Homo sapiens: one gene and its partner. The gene in region 2 interacts genetically with the main gene of each other region. Each region holds a gene or a part of one and is shown on either strand. Other genes may lie near its edges.

The links.
Region 1: changes in CCN6 (region 2) and PTP4A3 together harm fitness less than expected from each alone (positive genetic interaction), as found in Homo sapiens cells (one study listed by BioGRID).

The regions. Positions count from the first base shown.
Region 1 is NC_000008.11:141,422,292-141,430,020, reverse strand, and holds part of PTP4A3 (protein tyrosine phosphatase type IVA 3), read right to left. Parts: coding exon 7,676-7,729; intron 4,974-7,675; coding exon 4,881-4,973; intron 3,083-4,880; coding exon 2,952-3,082; intron 2,272-2,951; coding exon 2,197-2,271; intron 1-2,196. UniProt on the Homo sapiens protein: Protein tyrosine phosphatase which stimulates progression from G1 into S phase during mitosis. Enhances cell proliferation, cell motility and invasive activity, and promotes cancer metastasis.
Region 2 is NC_000006.12:112,048,584-112,057,800, reverse strand, and holds the start of CCN6 (cellular communication network factor 6 isoform 1 precursor), read right to left. Parts: upstream 3,698-9,217; 5' UTR 3,467-3,697; coding exon of another isoform or gene 3,444-3,466; coding exon 3,396-3,443; intron 1-3,395. UniProt on the Homo sapiens protein: Plays a role in mitochondrial electron transport and mitochondrial respiration. Through its regulation of the mitochondrial function may play a role in normal postnatal skeletal growth and cartilage homeostasis.

The sequences.
Region 1 (7,729 bases), on a different chromosome or scaffold from region 2:
GACTGTGCGCTCACCCTGTCCCCGCCACCTGGTCCTTACAGCGGGGACGTGGGCTGTGCGCTCACCCTGTCCCCGCCACCAGGTCCTTACAGCGGGGACCCGGACTGTGCGCTCACCCTGTCCCCGCCACCTGGTCCTTACAGCGGGGACCCGGACTGTGCGCTCACCCTGTCCCCGCCACCTGGTCCTTACAGCGGGGACCCGGACTGTGCGCTCACCCTGTCCCCGCCACCTGGTCCTTACAGCGGGGACCCGGACTGTGCGCTCACCCTGTCCCCGCCACCTGGTCCTTACAGCGGGGACCCGGACTGTGCGCTCACCCTGTCCCCGCCACCTGGTCCTTACAGCGGGGACTGGACTGTGTGCTCACCCTGTCCCCGCCACCTGGTCCTTACAGCGGGGACGTGGGCTGTGCGCTTACCCTGTCCCCGCCACCGGGTCCTTACAGCAGAAACCTGGGCTGTACACTCACCCTGCTCCCGCCACCTGGTCCTTACAGCAGGGACCTGGGCTATGTGCTCACCCTGCCCCGCCACCTGGTCCTTGACCACATGTACCTGGCTGGGGTGAACAGGAAGACTTCCTGGAGAGGATGCTGCAGCCACACCTGAGAGGCCCTGAGGTGACAGGCGTTGAGGGGCGGGGGCTGCCCACCCAGCGCCTCTGGAGGCTCATCCATCCCCACCTGCCATGACCTCAGGCGTGGCCACAGGCTGGCCCTGGCCAAGGAAGTGGGAGCAGCAGTAGCGCGAGGAGTCTCTGCCCAGCAAAGCTGCAGGTGCCCCGTGTGGCTCCACCGTGCTCGTTTCCTCGCCCAGCAGCCGGCACACTGGGGAAGGCGCAGCCCTCAGCCACGCCTCCGGGTAGGGCCCCCACCAACAGACACGCAACAGGGGCAAGAAACGCCCGTGCTGTTCTGAGTCGTTGGGGTTCAGGCCTGGCTGTTTCCGCAGCATGGCCCAACCTGTCCTGACCAGCGCAGCCTCAGGTGCGGGGAGCCACACAGCAAAAGCCACAAGGGAGAGACAAGCCCTTGCTCGGTGAGACGTGGGGTGGGGAGAGAACCCGGGGAAGGTGTGCACCCGCATGTGTGAGAGTGCATGTCATGTATGAGTGCACACGTGTGTACATGCCTGAGTGCATCCATGTGTGTCCATGTGTGCAAATACCCGCTTGTCTGTATGTGCCTGTGTTCACACACCTGCCTGTGAGTGTGTGCCTGCGTATGCCTGGGTCTGTGTGGGCACACATGTGCTTGTGAATGTGTGCCTGTATGACCCCCATGCGTGTCTGTGTGTGAGCGTGCACATCCCATGGTCCCCAGGGAGACCTGAGCACCTGCAGGCCACGCTCTCGCACAGACCCACAGGGCGGGCCACGCTCTCGCAGACCCACAGGGCGGGCCACACTCTCACACAGACCCACAGGGCCAGCTGGCATGGCTGGGAACAAGCCTGCCTCTGGGAGGAAGAGATGGCCCCACCAGCCAAGCCTGTCCGAGGAGTACCACAGGTGTGTCACACTCACGGGCACACACATGGTGGGCTGGGCAGGGGCAGGCTTCAGGTGCCGCATCCGTTCCTCCAGAGTTGGCCCTGCCATCCCGGCCAGACTCCCCCAGGACCCCCTGGGCAGTGGGCAGATGGCAGCCCTCCCCAGGGAGGCCACCAAGTGACAGGGATGGGGCAGGCGAGCTGGCCTAGAAGCCTCTAAGGAGGGCGGGGAGGGGCTGAGCTGGAGAGCTCGGGGTTGGGGGGAGGGGTGGTGAGCAGCTAGACTCAGAGTAGTCCTGAGACACTAGCCCACTGTCAGCGTCCCTGGGGGTGGACACGGTGTGGTGTGGGGTTTCAGGTTCTAGTTTTTCATGGAGGGACTGAACTGGCTGGCTCTGGGGGTCCTTCCACCCCCGTCAGGATGGCTGCGACAGAAGGAGCTCTGTCTGTGGAGGGCGGGCAGGACGGCGTGGCGGGTGGCCTCGCTGTGTCCCTGTGTGGCTGCATGGTCACTCGGGGGCTGCTGTCCCCACCCATCAGAAACACCTCAGGCTTCCCCGTTTCTGCAGCAAGGCCCAGCTTGTGCTGATCGACGCAGCCTCAGAGCGACGGAACCACACAGCCAATGCCGCCACCCTTCGTGGGCAGCCGGATCTCCCCTCCCCCAGCGCTCACAGCCCACCCCACCACCGCGGCCACTCACTGGCGGATGAACTGGATGGCGTCCTCGTACTTCATCCCGCTCTCAATAAGGGCCAGCGCCACAAGGACTGGAGCCCTGGGGGCAAACAGCAGGGCGGGGGTCATCGGAGCCTGCGCACCCCTGTCCCCTTGGCAGGGCACCTGCTGAAGATGCAGGGCACGGGGGCCCAAGGGGCCCAGAATCCCCCCTGCCTGAAGCTCCCCCATGGAGGCCACAGCCTCACAGCCCAGCCTGAGCACTGGGTCTAAATCCTGGCTCCCTCCTAGGCAACCTCTCTGTGATCTGCTGGGGGAGGGTTAAATAAGAGCTGGCGGGTGAAGTGCTAAGAGCCGGATCCATGCCTGCTATCAACTCTGCTCGCCTGGGTCTCCCTCTGCAGATGGGGGTGTCCCACTGGTCATGTCATCCGATCCCAGCTGCCATTCTTCCTCCCGTTCTCCCAGCAGGGAGTCTGAGGCCCCAGCTGTGTGTGGGGGGATCTTTGTGTCTGGAGAGGGGGACGGCAGCCCTTTCCTACACAAGATGTCAGGATGGTTTCAACCATAGCAGGAAGAAGTTGGGTTAGACTTTGGGAAGCACTTCCTCTCTGTGATGCTGGGAGAGGACCAGTCTGGGAGCCCCAGCACTAGGGGCATGGGCCTCCTGGGAAGGTCGCGTGGACGTGTGTTCAAGACCCACATCCAAAAGCGAGGCTGTCAGACCACGAGATGCCCAACCACCTGACATGGCGAGCCCTACCCCGCCCCGACACTCACCGGCCCAGGCCCGCCACGCAGTGCACAGCCACGCAGCTGCCGGGGGCCTCACAGAACTTGGCCTTCACCAGGCTCAGCCAGTCTTCCACTACCTTGCCGGGCGGGGGCGCCCCATCGTCAAACGGCCAGTCCTACGGAGGGAAGCAGACATGAGGACCCCCGGCTGAGGGAGGGTAGAGAGGCGGCTCTGGGGCTCAGGCGAGGAAAGGGAGCTCTGAGAGGCAGAGGGTGCCAGGAGCCCACTAGGGTGGGGGCAGCAGACCCAGAGGGCACACAGGAGGGGCACAGCTTGCCTATGGGCACCCCATGGTGAGTGCTTCAGACTCCTCATCATTCCCTGTACACTGCAGCTATCCCCTCCTCCAGGAAGCCTTCCTGGACCACCCCACCCCTTTCTGAATAGAGCCTGCTCCAGAGTCGCACAAATCCTAATCCCCACACCTGTCAGCCCGAGCTCTGGTTCTGGGGTCACAATCCCTCACGCCTGTGTGCCGGTGGCAGCCTGAGAGGTTTTGGGTCGGCTGGTGCAAAGGGTCTCATCCCCTGTGCTGGCATGCAAAGATGGCTGGCACATGCCACACACAGCCCAGGTGCCAGGAAGGACTGAAGACAGGGCTGTGGGGCGAGACAGGGCCCACATTTCTGAGGGCAGGACTCGAAACAGGCGGTTCCACCGGGCCCCGGCCCATTGCTCCTGGGGGTTAATTTGGTCTTGGAAGATGACCTGTGCTTCCCACTGTCCCGTCCCCCAGCGCCCTAGATCGGTGGGCAACGTGAGTCTTCCTAGGGGAGGGCCCGGGCCAGGGCGCTGCAGTAGGAGTGGACACGTTTCAGTCTTGGGAAGGCGGGTTCATGCAGGGACTGTGCCAGGCATGGGGCTGTCTGGTACCAGGGAGAGCCCGCTGGGCCCACTGAGGCAGACACACAGCCCTCGGGGGCATCTCACCCCTCCCCAGCCTCCAGGCAGGGCAACTCCTAGAGACAACCGGTGTCACGGCTACTTACGTCTGACCCCAATCCCTCCCGCTGCTGTGGAAGGGGAGGGAGGGTGTGGGCGCACCCCGTGCGAGAAGCGGGGACATGCCTTTGCCTCCCATTCTTCCAAGCAGCCTCGCTTTGAGGTGAGGAACCCAAGGCTCGGAGTGACCTGCAGGGTCGCAAGGCTGGGGAGGGCAGAGGCGGGACGCAGCCCAAGGCCTGTCTGACCCCAAACCGCCAGCGCTGCCACCATTCCAAACCGCCAAGCTGAGGTCACAAAACTGCAACCCCAGCCAAAAGCAGAGTCCTGGGATGAAAAGCAGTGACTGAGGGGTGCTCCGCACTGAGGAGACTGAGGCCCAGGCGCAGCTGGGCAGGCCTGCACCAGGGGGGCAGTCGTCCACCGGGCCGGGGGTGGACCCCCCTGGGGCTGGCTCTGGGCCTGCAGCTGCTGTGGCCCACCCCCCCAAGGATATCGCAGCAGAACCGCCCCACCCCCCGCCCAGACCTGGGTCCCCAGGGCCAAAGAAGCCGAGGAAACTGCCCAAGGGCCCTCCCCAGGAGCCTGCTGCCTGGCAACAGGGCCCCAGCCGCCCAGGCAGCAAGACTGAGATGCACCCAAGACAGGCCCAGAGGAGGGCCTGAGACAGGCAGAGGAGCCCACCCGCCACCTTGGCCGATGCACCAAGCATGTGCCACCCCTGCCTGGCGAACCGTGCTGGCCCACCCTAGAGACAGAAAGACGGGTGCGCAAGGGTGACTTTCTTGAGGTCACACGGCCCAACACCCTGGCCTTCCCTTGATGTACCCAGACACACACGTGGCCCAGGCACAGACATGCCCAGGGCTGCCACAGGAGGGGCACCAAACCCTCTGCGCAGGCCCGGAGCCCCCCGCCCCACCCTCCCCCGGTGGCAGCAGTGACTAGGGTCCCCGTGGCGCGCGCCTCACCACAACGGTGATGCCATCCTTCTCCAGCGGCGTTTTGTCATAGGTCACTTCACACACACGCACCACAGTGGTAGCCCCGTACTTCTTCAGGTCCTGGGGGTGGGAGGACGGAGGAGGCAGGGCTGGGCTGGGGCTGCAGGGCTCAGGGGGCAGGACCCACTCACCAGGGCTCCCAGGGCACAGCTGTGTCCCCCACAGTCACCCAGGACTTGGACATGTCCCCTCAGACCTCTCGGGGTGGAGCCCTGTCCCCTCAGTCCCCTGGGGCAGGGTCATGGCCCCTGAAGCCCCCAGGGAAGGGCATGTCACCCTCCAGCCAGGCAGACCCTGATGCAGTGAGGTCCACCAAGAGTGGACTTCAGGCTCCACTACTGGTCGAGGTAGTGTCTGGCTGTCGAAGAGCCTGTCCTAGGTCCCTTGGGCCACCCAGCAGAGGCAAAGGTGTCCCCACCTACATTCACGGTAACTGGCAGCTGGGACCCCAGCTGCCCAGCACACCACTCCCTCCTCTGGGGTGCTCAGGACCCCAGATCTACCAGCAAGGACATTTCTTCCAGAAAAGCTACTGGGTCCCCACAGCAGGAACTGGACTCCCCAGCCCACGTGTGAGCCCCTGCATCCGAACAGCGACCCCAGCTGAGCCGCAGGGATGGGTCCAGTTTTTAGGGTCTAAGAGGGGCGGGCATCAGCTGGGGCGCCTCAGAGCAGGGAGGGTGGGCACCGCTCAGATGGCAGCCAGGAGGAAGCTGGGCCCTGTACGCCAGCAGGGAAGCCCCACACGACCAGGGAAAAGGTGGTGGTAGTTCACAGCCAGGCCGATAGTTATACCCCCACTGCGGAGGATCCACTCCACAGGGGTCACGTGCGGGGGCTGTTCCCACCCCACCTGCTCTCGTAGCTATTTTGGGAGGGGTGAGGAATCAGCTGATGGGTCTTGCTGGTCACGGGACAGGGACCTGGAACACAGAGAGGCCAGCACCCAACTATCTGAGAATGCAGGGAGCAGGCAGGGTGCTGGGCTCTGTGGCCATGGGGTACCTCAGAGGCCCTCTGCACCCTCAGCAGAGGGAATGGCCACCCAGCCCACGGCTCAGCCCTGGCCCTGGTCACAGGCTGAGCCCTTCCTGATCCTGGTCACACACTGAGCCCTGATCCTGGTCACGTCCTGAGCCTTGATAGTCACACACCTCTGAGCCCTAATCCTGATCACGTGCTGAGCCCCCAACCCTGGTCACACATTGAGCCCTAATCCTGGTCACATACCGAGCCTTGATCTGGGTCACACACTGAGCCCTGATCCTGGTCAGACACTAAGCGTTAACCCTGGTCACAGGATGAGCCCTCCCTAACCCTGCTCACCTACTAAGCCTCAATCCTGGTCACACACTGAACCCTGATCTTGGACACACACTGAGCTTCGACCCTGGTCACATACTGAGCCCTGATCCCAGACACACACCAAACCCTGGCCCTGGTCACACACTAAGCCCTGATCCTGGTCAAACACTGAGCCCCAACCTTGGTCACATACTGAGCGCTAATCCTGGACACACACTGAGTCCCAACCTTGGTCACATACTGAGCCCTGATCCTGGACACACACTGAGCCTCAACCCTGGTCACACATTGAGCCCTGATCCCAGACACACACCGAACCCTGACCCTGGTCACACAGAGCCCTGATCCTGGTCAAACAGTGAGCCCCAACCTTGGTCACACACTGAGACCTGACCTTGGTTACAGACTTAACCCTGATCCCAGTCATATTCTGAGGCCTCACCCTGGCCACTCACCGTGCTGTTCTCGCCAATCTTTCTGTAGATGCTGCTGTTATCTCAGGGGTCTCAGCTGCGAGAGGGACAGCCATCTTCTGTAGGGCACCTGGCTCAGTGTCCAGGGTCCAGGCTCCCTGATGGCAAGGTGCCCAATGCCTCCTGCTGCTCTACAGTTCTTAATGCCCTCTCACGCCCAAATCTGTTTCATTATGACAAGACCATGATGGCTTATCTCATGTCACAGGGGAAAGGACTCAGCCATAAATGACCCTGCACACAGCTGCAGCCTCTCACACAGCCTGGCACAGTCAGAGGCTCTGTCAACGGCCCCGCACACAACTGCAGACGCTGCAAACGGCCCCAGGCCTGCAAACAGCAGGGCGTTCTGCAGAGGCCAGGCTCCTCCAGGAGGCCATGCAGGTCGCTCCAGACTCCACTCCCAAGAAAGCTTCTGTAAACGCATCTCGTCCCATCTGCCAGGGTTGCCAGCGGCAGGTATCTCTGCTGCCTCTCCAGGGCACAGTGGTCCCTCCCTCCTGTGGTCAGCGCTGACCCTTGCTCAGTCCCTCCTCACACAGAGATCTGGGCCCTGAAGCCCCTAGTCCAGCCTGGTCTAACCTGAGGCCTCATCCAGAGCCCAGCAACATCTGGGACAGCAAAGGGCTCGGGAGGGCCCCAGCCCAGGCCACGGCTGAGCACGCACAGCCTGGTCCATGTATCCCCCTGCCTCACCCCCTGCCTCTATCCACACAGCGTGGAGTCCCTCCTATCACACGCCAGCCCCCTGCAGGCCTCCCAGGGGACCCCGTTGATCCCCCAACACCCTCAACCCCAACCCCCGGGGCACCCCCATCTCCCTCCTCCAGGATCCTGTAACAGGCGACTGGGCTTTGTTCCAAGGCTGTGAGCCCTGTCTGGCCAGCCGGGGCTGGGGACCCCTCTTGCGAGGCCTGAGGGCAGCTCAGCCGGGCTTCCCAGACACCTGGGCCACCTGCCTGCCACACCTCCGTCTCCACTCACCTCAATGAAGGTGCTGAGCGTGGCGTTGGTGGGGTTGTGGGTGATGAGGAAGCG
Region 2 (9,217 bases):
TGTTTCATAGCTTTAATGTATTGCTTGCCTCATTCTACACTGTGTCTTGGCAATCTCACCCACACCCTTGCCTTCAGTTTTCATCCTATGCAAGTTTCAAAACTAAATTTCCAGCCTGGACTTCTCCACTGAGCCCTGGACCCGTGAGATAACTACCTACTGGACATCTCCACCCAAATGTCCTCCAGGAAATACTCAAGTCCAAAAGTCATCATTTTTCACTCTTCAAAGTTTGGAGTCAGGAAGCTGGATTCATCTGGGTTGTCTTCCTCCCTCTCACCTCCTATGACGATTCAGTGACCCTCTCCTATGTATTGTATTGTCCTCGTCTTCCCAGAACTAGATGCTTTTCCCCATTTCATTGCTACTAAGTAAGCACCGTCACTACGAGTTCCTGACTGACCTTCCTCCCTCCAGAATGACTTTTCAAGTGCATCTACTATGTTGCTCCTGGAGGAATCTCTTTAAAGAACATGTCTGGTTGTATTACTCCTCTCCTTAAAGCCCATCAGGGGTTCCCCATAGTCCATACTGTGCAGCCTAAACTTCTGAGCCAGTTATCCAAAGCCCTCTCCTGCCTACCTCTTGAGCTTTAGCTCTCACACACTCTCCTTCCATGACTTGCCATTTGCTGGACTCCCTGGGTTGGTTTTCTCCTCCCTGCTTTTTCATGTGTTCTTTCTAATGAAATGCACACTCCCAAAACTGCCCCCGGATGCCTCTTTAACTTTCCAATTTTGAAGCATTTCCAGATAATCTCTGAGGTCAAAAGGTAACACTGTTGAAATCCAAGGATAAAGAGAAAATCATAACAGTAGACTGAGAAAAGCATTACATACTGAATTACATGAAAAATGAGATCTGACTTCTCATCAAAAGACGGAGGAGGAGGAAGAGATTGAGAAGAAGATGTGCAAAGACAATGTTGAAAGGAAAAAAAAACAACCTGTCAACCCAGAATTATATGGCCAGTGAAACCATCTTTCAAAAATGAAGCTGAAATAGCCTGTAATCCCAGCACTTTGGGATGCCGAGGCAGGTGGATCACTTGAGGCGGGGAGTTCAAGACTAGCCTGGCCAACATGGCAAAACCCCATCTCTACTAAAAATACAAAAACTTAGCCAGGTGTGGTGGCGTGCACCTGTAGTCCCAGCTACTCAGGAGGCTGAGACAGGAGAATCGCTTGAACCCAGAAGGCAGAGGTTGCAGTGAGCCAAGACACGCCACTGCACTCCAGCCTAGGCAACAGAGGGTGATTCCATCTCAAAATAAAGAAAATCATAACAGTAGACTGAGAAAAGGGGGAAGCATTACATACAGAAGTACAATAAAACTGAGATCTGACTTCTCATCAAAAGAAGGAGGAGGAGGGAGAGATGGAGAAGAACAAGATGCCCAGAGACAATGTTAAACGGAGAAAAAAAAAAATCCTGTCAATCCAGAATTATATAGCCAGTGAAACTGTCTTTCAAACATGATGGTGAAATAAAAACCGTTTCTGGGTAAACAAAACCTAAGAGAAATTGTTGCTAGCTGATCTGCCTCACAAGAAATACTAAAGGAGGATCTTCGGTCTGAAGATCTTCTGTTATGATAGTAACTTAGAAATACAGGAAGAAATGAAGAGGCCTGGACATAGTCAATATGTGGGTAAATATAAAGAATCTTATATTTTTCACTTTTCCTCAGGCATATTTTGATTGTTTTCAACAGCAAAATTTCAGGACAATAAGCATCACTAGAATGGTGCAATAGAAAGAATAAGCATTTTGACAACAGATCCGAGCTTTGCAACAGCTCTGTGATCTTACAGAACTTCCCATCATTTGATCTCCTCTGTAATATGGGATTAATAATGACCACCTTGTAAAGTTGTTTTGATAATTAAGATAATAACTAAAGCACCCTTGGGCCGGAGGTGGTGGCTCACACCTGTAATCCCAACACTTTGGGAGGCCGAGGTGGGCGGATCACTTGAGGTCAGGAGTTCAAGACCAGCTTGGCCAACAGGGCAAAACCCTATCTCTACTAAAATACAAAAATTGGCAAGGCATGGTGGTGTAGGCCTGTAATCTCAGCTACTTGGGAGGCTGAGGCACAACAATCGCTTGAACCCAGGAGGTGGAGGTTGCAGTGACCCAAGACTGCACCACTGCACTCCAGCCTGGAACGACAGAGCAAGGCTCTGTCTCTAAATAAATAAATAAATAAATAAATAAAGCACCCAGCACAGTATTTGGCATATAGCAGCTATTCAGTAAATGCTAGGTATTATCAGCTATTTCATGAATTTATGAATTCATAAAAGCAAAGTTAAGCACAAAATAATCCATTTTTACCGCTCTTTGTGTAACACCTTTCTGTGTTTGTTGTTGTTTATTTTGTACACATCTCTCTGTGTTGGAATACCTGCTGTCTAAGAACATCTAGCTGCTCTCAATCCACAATGACAGGCTTTTTCTCAAGAACAGTGGAATAGGAGGCACACAGACAGGGGAGTGAGCCCCTCCACAGAACAGCAGCAATGACCTGGACCACTGACATTCTTGTCATGATTCTTTTGAAATCGTAAATCTCTCTCTATATGGTATAACAATTTGCAATTCCTTGTTTTCTAAGATGTATCTACTACTTATGGCCCCAATCAACTACTAACTCACAGACACACCCATGTTTCCTAAATCACCAGATTTCAAAAGCTCTGTCTCCTGTCTACCGTGTAAATAAATCAACAATTAAGTCACCTTGTTTTCATCTTCTTATTTAAAAAGACTAAGGCAATGAATTGCTCATAGTAAGTTAAACTTCCCTTTGGTCTGTTGCTTGAAATATTTCCAAGCCTCCATGGACTGCTTCCCTTTCAGGAAGTGAGAAACACATGGACTGAGAAAAGACAAAGTAAGAGAATGTTTTAAAAATGTAAATGTTTATTCCAAAGTGCCCCTTTCAAAGAAGGACAGACTTAACTGGAAAAAGTCGCTGTCAAAATTCGTTTTTCCAGGGGCTCTTTGCACATTTTGCAAACAGCAATGGAAAGTTGAGCCTCCGCCTGGAGCTGGCATGGAGAGACACTGTTTCCCGCACTGTGCCAGGCTGTGCCTTAGGCTCTGCTATAAAAATATATAGGAAAGCGTGGCGCTGTTCAAACATAGCGAAAGGAGGCTTCGGTGCCATTACCTGAAAGGGAGAAATGTTTTACATTTCTTTCATGAAGCTCATGAACGAACACAGAACTTTATTTGGAAAGAAAAATGGCTTCCTATTTCTCATGAAGTAGTTCCACAAGCCATTGATCCTCCCTCTTCCTCCATCTTCGTTTTGTTTAGTTTTGGGCCTGAAGAACTAAGGATGGCCATAGCCTCCGGAAGGGAAAGAGTCGGGGGAGAGGACTTACCTGTGCCAGGCCAGCAAGCAGAAGAGTGGAGAAGAGGAGCCCCTGCATGTCGCTGGGACCGTGGAGCCACCCTGAGGGGTAGAGAAGTCGCCGCTTGTTCATTGCTCCGGGTACACAAAGCTCCCCTGTCTCCTCTGCAAACCCCACGCTCCTCTGCACAAGAACACACACCCTCTACCTCCCACACTACCAACTTTCAGCCTGCACTTTCATTTTTAAGGATCCGTTTTAATACCCTGTTTACTTTCATGGGACTCTTCTAATAACCTGCCTTCGCAGTGAGCGTGTCACAGGTCAGGAATGGGCGAGCACTTTCCTCCCGGGACTCAGGAGGGCAGGGCAAGTAGTGACTGTTCTCTAAGTGACTGTGTTACCTGTTCCTGGAGAGCAGAGCCTGCCCCCGACAACGGGTGGGGTCCCACGTCATTCCCTTCCTTGCCCTCAGCTTCTCCATCTGTGTTTGCCCTGCTCCGGGTCCTCTCTAGGCTGCTTCCTTCTCCAGCTTCACCCTCACGTACAGAGTGCAGGCCTGGCCCCCCCACCAACAGCACCCATCGCAGCCTAGCCCTGGCTTTCCCCCTCCATATTAATGGCAGGCTCTCGAAGGACCCTGACTCCCCCAGCTCAGATTCTCTCGGAGGCACCCACAGTGCCCTGGGCTCACCTTTATCCCAACACCTTTCTCATGCCAGGTGGACTGTGAGTGGAAAAAATACAGATGGAGCAGGGGGCGGACTCCTACAGTACCTGGCCTGAGAGACGCCTCTTTTTGTGGCCACAGTTCCATGACAGATGACAATGAAGTTAACCTCCATTTTTCCGGGCCTAAAATAAAACAATTACACTGGTAGCAATCATTCATTTAATGAATTAAGATTAAAAATAAGCCTGGCCAATATGATGAAATCCCGTCTCTGCTAAAAAAAAAAAAAGACACAAAAATTAGCCAGGTGTGGTGGCAGGCGCCTGTAATCCCAGCTGCTTGGGAGGCTGAGGCAGGAGAATCGCTTGAACCTGGGAGGCGGAGGTTGCAGTGAGCCGAGATCGCACCATTGCACTCCAGCCTGGGGGACAAGAGTGAGAATTATTCTCAAAAAAAAAAAAAAGATTAAAAATAAAATTTTGACAGGTTTGTACTCCTCTTCTTCATACTCACCTCCCTGAAAGGTGTGACCACCAGCGCATCTCCTCCTGTGTCATCATGTGGGACCTTCGCTTCTCCATGTTCTCAGCCTGGGTCTGTGTTCCCATCTTCATTTGCAGCTGCCGTGGTGCTTTGTCCCTCTCAGGTCCCTGAGGCGTCCCACCTGCCTGCCCCCATCCCAAGGCCTATTTCTATTTCCTTTGATCAGTTACCTATCCCTCCTTTTCCTGCTGCCTTACCTATCCTATACCGATTGCTCACCTTTGTTACTGTTCAAGGCAGTCACTACTGTATAAAGACAACATCAAGCCTCGCTTAGGCCTGAGCTGAGGGCCTGGGAAAAACGAGGCTGTCCTCCACCACAGAGAATCTGGTGTCCTTGGAGAACCATGGACACCCTAAAACCTGCAGATCACACAGAGCTTACTAAGGAGTCATTAAACTGTAAGTATATGCACATCAAACAACAAGGAATACCCACTGCAGTTAGGATGCCAACGCCTTATCTTGCCTCCCTAAGAAATAGGACAAAACCAGATAATGGAGTAGTGAAGAAAATGTGTCTGTTTTGGTCCAATCTGATCTTTTTCTTTTCTTTTTTTTTTTTTATTATTATACTTCAAGTTCTAGGGTACATGTGCACAATGTGCAGGTTAGTTACATATGTATACATGTGCCATGTTGGTGTGCTGCACCCATTAACTCGTCCTTTAGCATTAGGCATATCTCCTAATGCTATCCCTCCCCCCTCCCCCCACCCCACAACAGGCCCCGGTGTGTGATGTTCCCCTTCCTGTGTCCCAGTGTTCTCACTGTAGAGAAGTCCTTAAATGACCTGATGGAGCTGAAAACCATGGCACGAGAACTACGTGATGAATGCACAAGCTTCAGTAGCCGATTCGATCAACTGGAAGAAAGGGTATCAGTGATGGAAGATCAAATGAATGAAATGAAGCGAGAAGAGAAGTTTAGAGAAAAAAGAATAAAAAGAAACGAACAAAGCCTCCAAGAAATATGAGACTATGTGAAAAGACCAAATCTACCTCTGATTGGTGTACCTGAAAGTGACGGGGAGAATGGAACCAAGATGGAAAACACTCTTCAGAATATTATCCAGGAGAACTTCCCCAACCAAGCAAGGCAGGCCAACATTCAAATTCAGGAAATACAGAGAACGCCACAAAGATACTCCTCGAGAAGAGCAACTCCAAGACACATAATTGTCAGATTCGCCAAAGTTGAAATGAAGGAAAATATGTTAAGGGCAGCCAGAGAGAAAGGTCGGGTTACCCACAAAGGGAAGCCCATCAGACTAACAGCGGATCTCTCGGCAGAAACTCTATAAGCCAGAAGAGAGTGGTGGCCAATATTCAATGCTCTTAAAGAAAAGAATTTTCAACCCAGAATTTCATATCCAGCCAAACTAAGCTTCATAAGTGAGGGAGAAATAAAATCCTTTACAAACAAGCAAATGCTGAGAGATTTTGTCACCACCAGGCCTGCCCTACAAGAGCTCCTGAAGGAAGCACTAAACGTGGAGAGGAACAACTGGTACCAGCCACTGCAAAAACATGCCAAATTGTAAAGACCATCAATGCTAGGAAGAAACTGCATCAACTAACAAGCAAAATAACCAGCTAACATCATAATGTGGATCAAATTCACACATAACAATATTAACCTTCACACTTAACAATATTAACCTTAAATGTAAATGGACTAAATGCTTCAATTAAAAGACACAGACTGGCAAATTGGATAAAGAGTCAAGACCCATCAGTGTCCAATCTGATCTTTGTCTTTTTATCTTCCTGGTTATCACCATTGGTCTGTGGGTACCAGCCTGTGATTCCCACACCACACCGGCTGTCAGGATGGATAATTTCATGTTTCTGGTTTGTCTATGAAAAGCAGAGGAGTCGCATCCCAACACTGGGGTATTCATCAACTGTATCTCTCCAGCTCCAGCTCTCCCCCGGTTCCACATATAGTAATGCACATATCAGTGCAATTTTTGAATTTAAGGAGTTTCACCCTCCTCCCGTTTGCTGTCTGTGAAATGCTGGCGGCAGCAGGCATTTTTCTGGAATCGTCTTCCATCCCTCTGCAGTCTCACTGACGTGGAGCAGGGGAAGATAGATGTTGACCATCCTTGCCTCTTGGTAGGAAAGGAACATCTTGCTTGAAAAGTGACCTGCAAAACCTCCCCCAGCTCCAGAACACACTGGCGCTGGGTTACTCACTCCCACATGTGTTTAGACATCTTTGGCTGTGGGAGCTCCTATTTAACTCTTTCCAGCCGACTGTGTGTGGACTCCATGGATATGGTAGTTTTAGAGGTCGGGGCTGCTATTTTTGACCTTACACAATAAGAGCTTTCACAGTGTGTGTCCTGTTCTGAGCATGTTTCCCTATTATCTCATTTAACAGAATGCTAATCTGTCTAGGAGCTCATTTCACAAGTGTTCAGTTTGTGATGTACGTTCCAATAGACATGGCGCTAAGCATAATTCAATGTGCACCATGTTCTATGATTTACAAAGAAGTTTCCTGTGTATTACATTTTTAATTTCACAGCTCAGTGAGGTGGGCAAAAGCAGTATTACCAACCTCATTTAACAGATTAAAAAGTGAAAGCTAAGCGATTATACTTGGTCAATAAAACACACTTAATCTCTGCCCTCTACAGCTAAATAATCTACTGGGAGAGAAGACGCTGAACAAATAAACACACAAAATGTCCGTCATTGAAAGTTGAATAAAGGCTAATAAGAGCAAAGAAGAAATTATAAGAGAGAATGACAGGTGAGAGCTAATTTAGATTGGGGGCAGAGAGGACATCTGAGGAAGTGATACTTAGTCAAGAGATGAAGCTAGATGAAGAGTCGGGAGACAACTGCCAGTCCAGGACTCCTTCCACTGGCAAGATGCACACCTCTAATGGTGGTGAGCTCCCCCGCACAGAGCACACCCCACTCCTTTCCCGTAAGATTCCTAAAATCGTTCTGTTAGGAGCGTCATCACAGCTAGAATAGTCCCTTCTCCTGGGAGTACCAGCCGTCCGGGCAGGCAGTGTTTGGAGCTCATGCCTGTGGTCAGCAAGCTTAGTACAGTATGAGTCTTCCTTTCCTCATCCCCTCTTTCCTTATCTTCCTATCTTACTGATTGTGGAGAAGGGTGTATTGACATCCTTGAGAAAAGAGAAGATATTGTTTGTGGAAGTAATGTATTGAATGTGTGCTATGAGGGGGGTCAATATTTGCTCCAGTGAAATAGAGATATAGTAACAATAACACAGCTTGGGCAACATAGTGAGACCCCATCTTTACAAAATAGAAAGTAAAAAAATTAGCCAGGTGTGGTGGTGCATACCTGTAGTCCTAGCTACTTGGGAAACTGAGACAGGAAGATTGCTTGAGCCCAGGATGTTGAGGCAACAGTGAGCTATGATCATACCACTGCACTCCAGCCTGGGAAACAGAGAGAAATCCTGTCTCAAAAAAAAAAGTATAATAATAATAAGAGCTAACATTGGCCGAGTGTCACTGTGTCTCAATATTGTACTGAGTGCTGTATATGTATTAACTCCTCTGATCCTTCAGCAACACTGGGCCTGTGTTCTGTGATTACCATCTTTGGTTTACTTATTAGGAAACTGGGGCAAGGTCACATGGTTAGCAAGAGGTAGAACCAAGATTCCAAGAATTTCATTACCATGCTCTGCTGCTCTCTGCATGGCCTGTAAATGACACCATGATCAGTAGCAGGATGATTGATTGATATATTAATTTGCATTGAGTTCTCTGTATTTTTCTTCCACCTGCTCCTCTCCTGGATTTCAAGAAGTTAGTGAGGCCCTTTAGGGTTCCCGCCTATCCATCCTCTAAGCACAGGATGGAAGCTGCTGGCATGCTTTATCTTGCCTTTTGAGATCCTGCCTTGTTCTCACTGGTAAGAGGTGATGCTGGGAGACGATGGGGAGGAAGAGGAGTGCAGCCGAGCATTGGGTGAGGACTGAACATTCAGGCCTCCCCATGCAGCAGCCCGGGGAGGTGACTAAAGCTCAGAGGGACTTGATGATTCATGGTACTTCCAGGAGGCTGCCCCAGTACCAGGGTGCCCTGCACTGGCTAAGTTCCTCAAAGAACTTTGTGAGGATGCAAAGCCTCAAGTGTCTATGCGTATTTGGATGATACAGGTATTGGCAGAAAACTTAGGAACTGATTATCAGAGGCCTGGCCCCTTTTTAGGCACCTTCTAGGCCTGCTGGATTGTCGTTCAACCCCCACTCATGGTGGCAGTGGTGTGGGTGGGTGGGTGGTCATGATGGTGGCCATGGTATTGGGGGTGGGGAGGAATGCACCAATGATACCTTAGAATAAATCCATCTCAGGATGGAGGCAGGGGAGGAGGGTTCAGAGCCTGGTTTAATTTGAATTAAAGAAAATGAATTTGTGAAGTCATACTCATACTTGCTACAAATACCACAAGCTTCACAAAGTAGCCATTCTCCTGCAGTGTGGACTCTCCCCTGAAAACTCACAGAACTCAGAACCAAAACCAGTGCCGGAGCATCTGTACCGTCTCCCATGGCCCTCTGTTCACTCCTGGCTTGGCCTGCAACCGGGTCTCTAATAATGCAGCAACTCTGCCCACCAGGTTGCTACTGCAAGCCCAA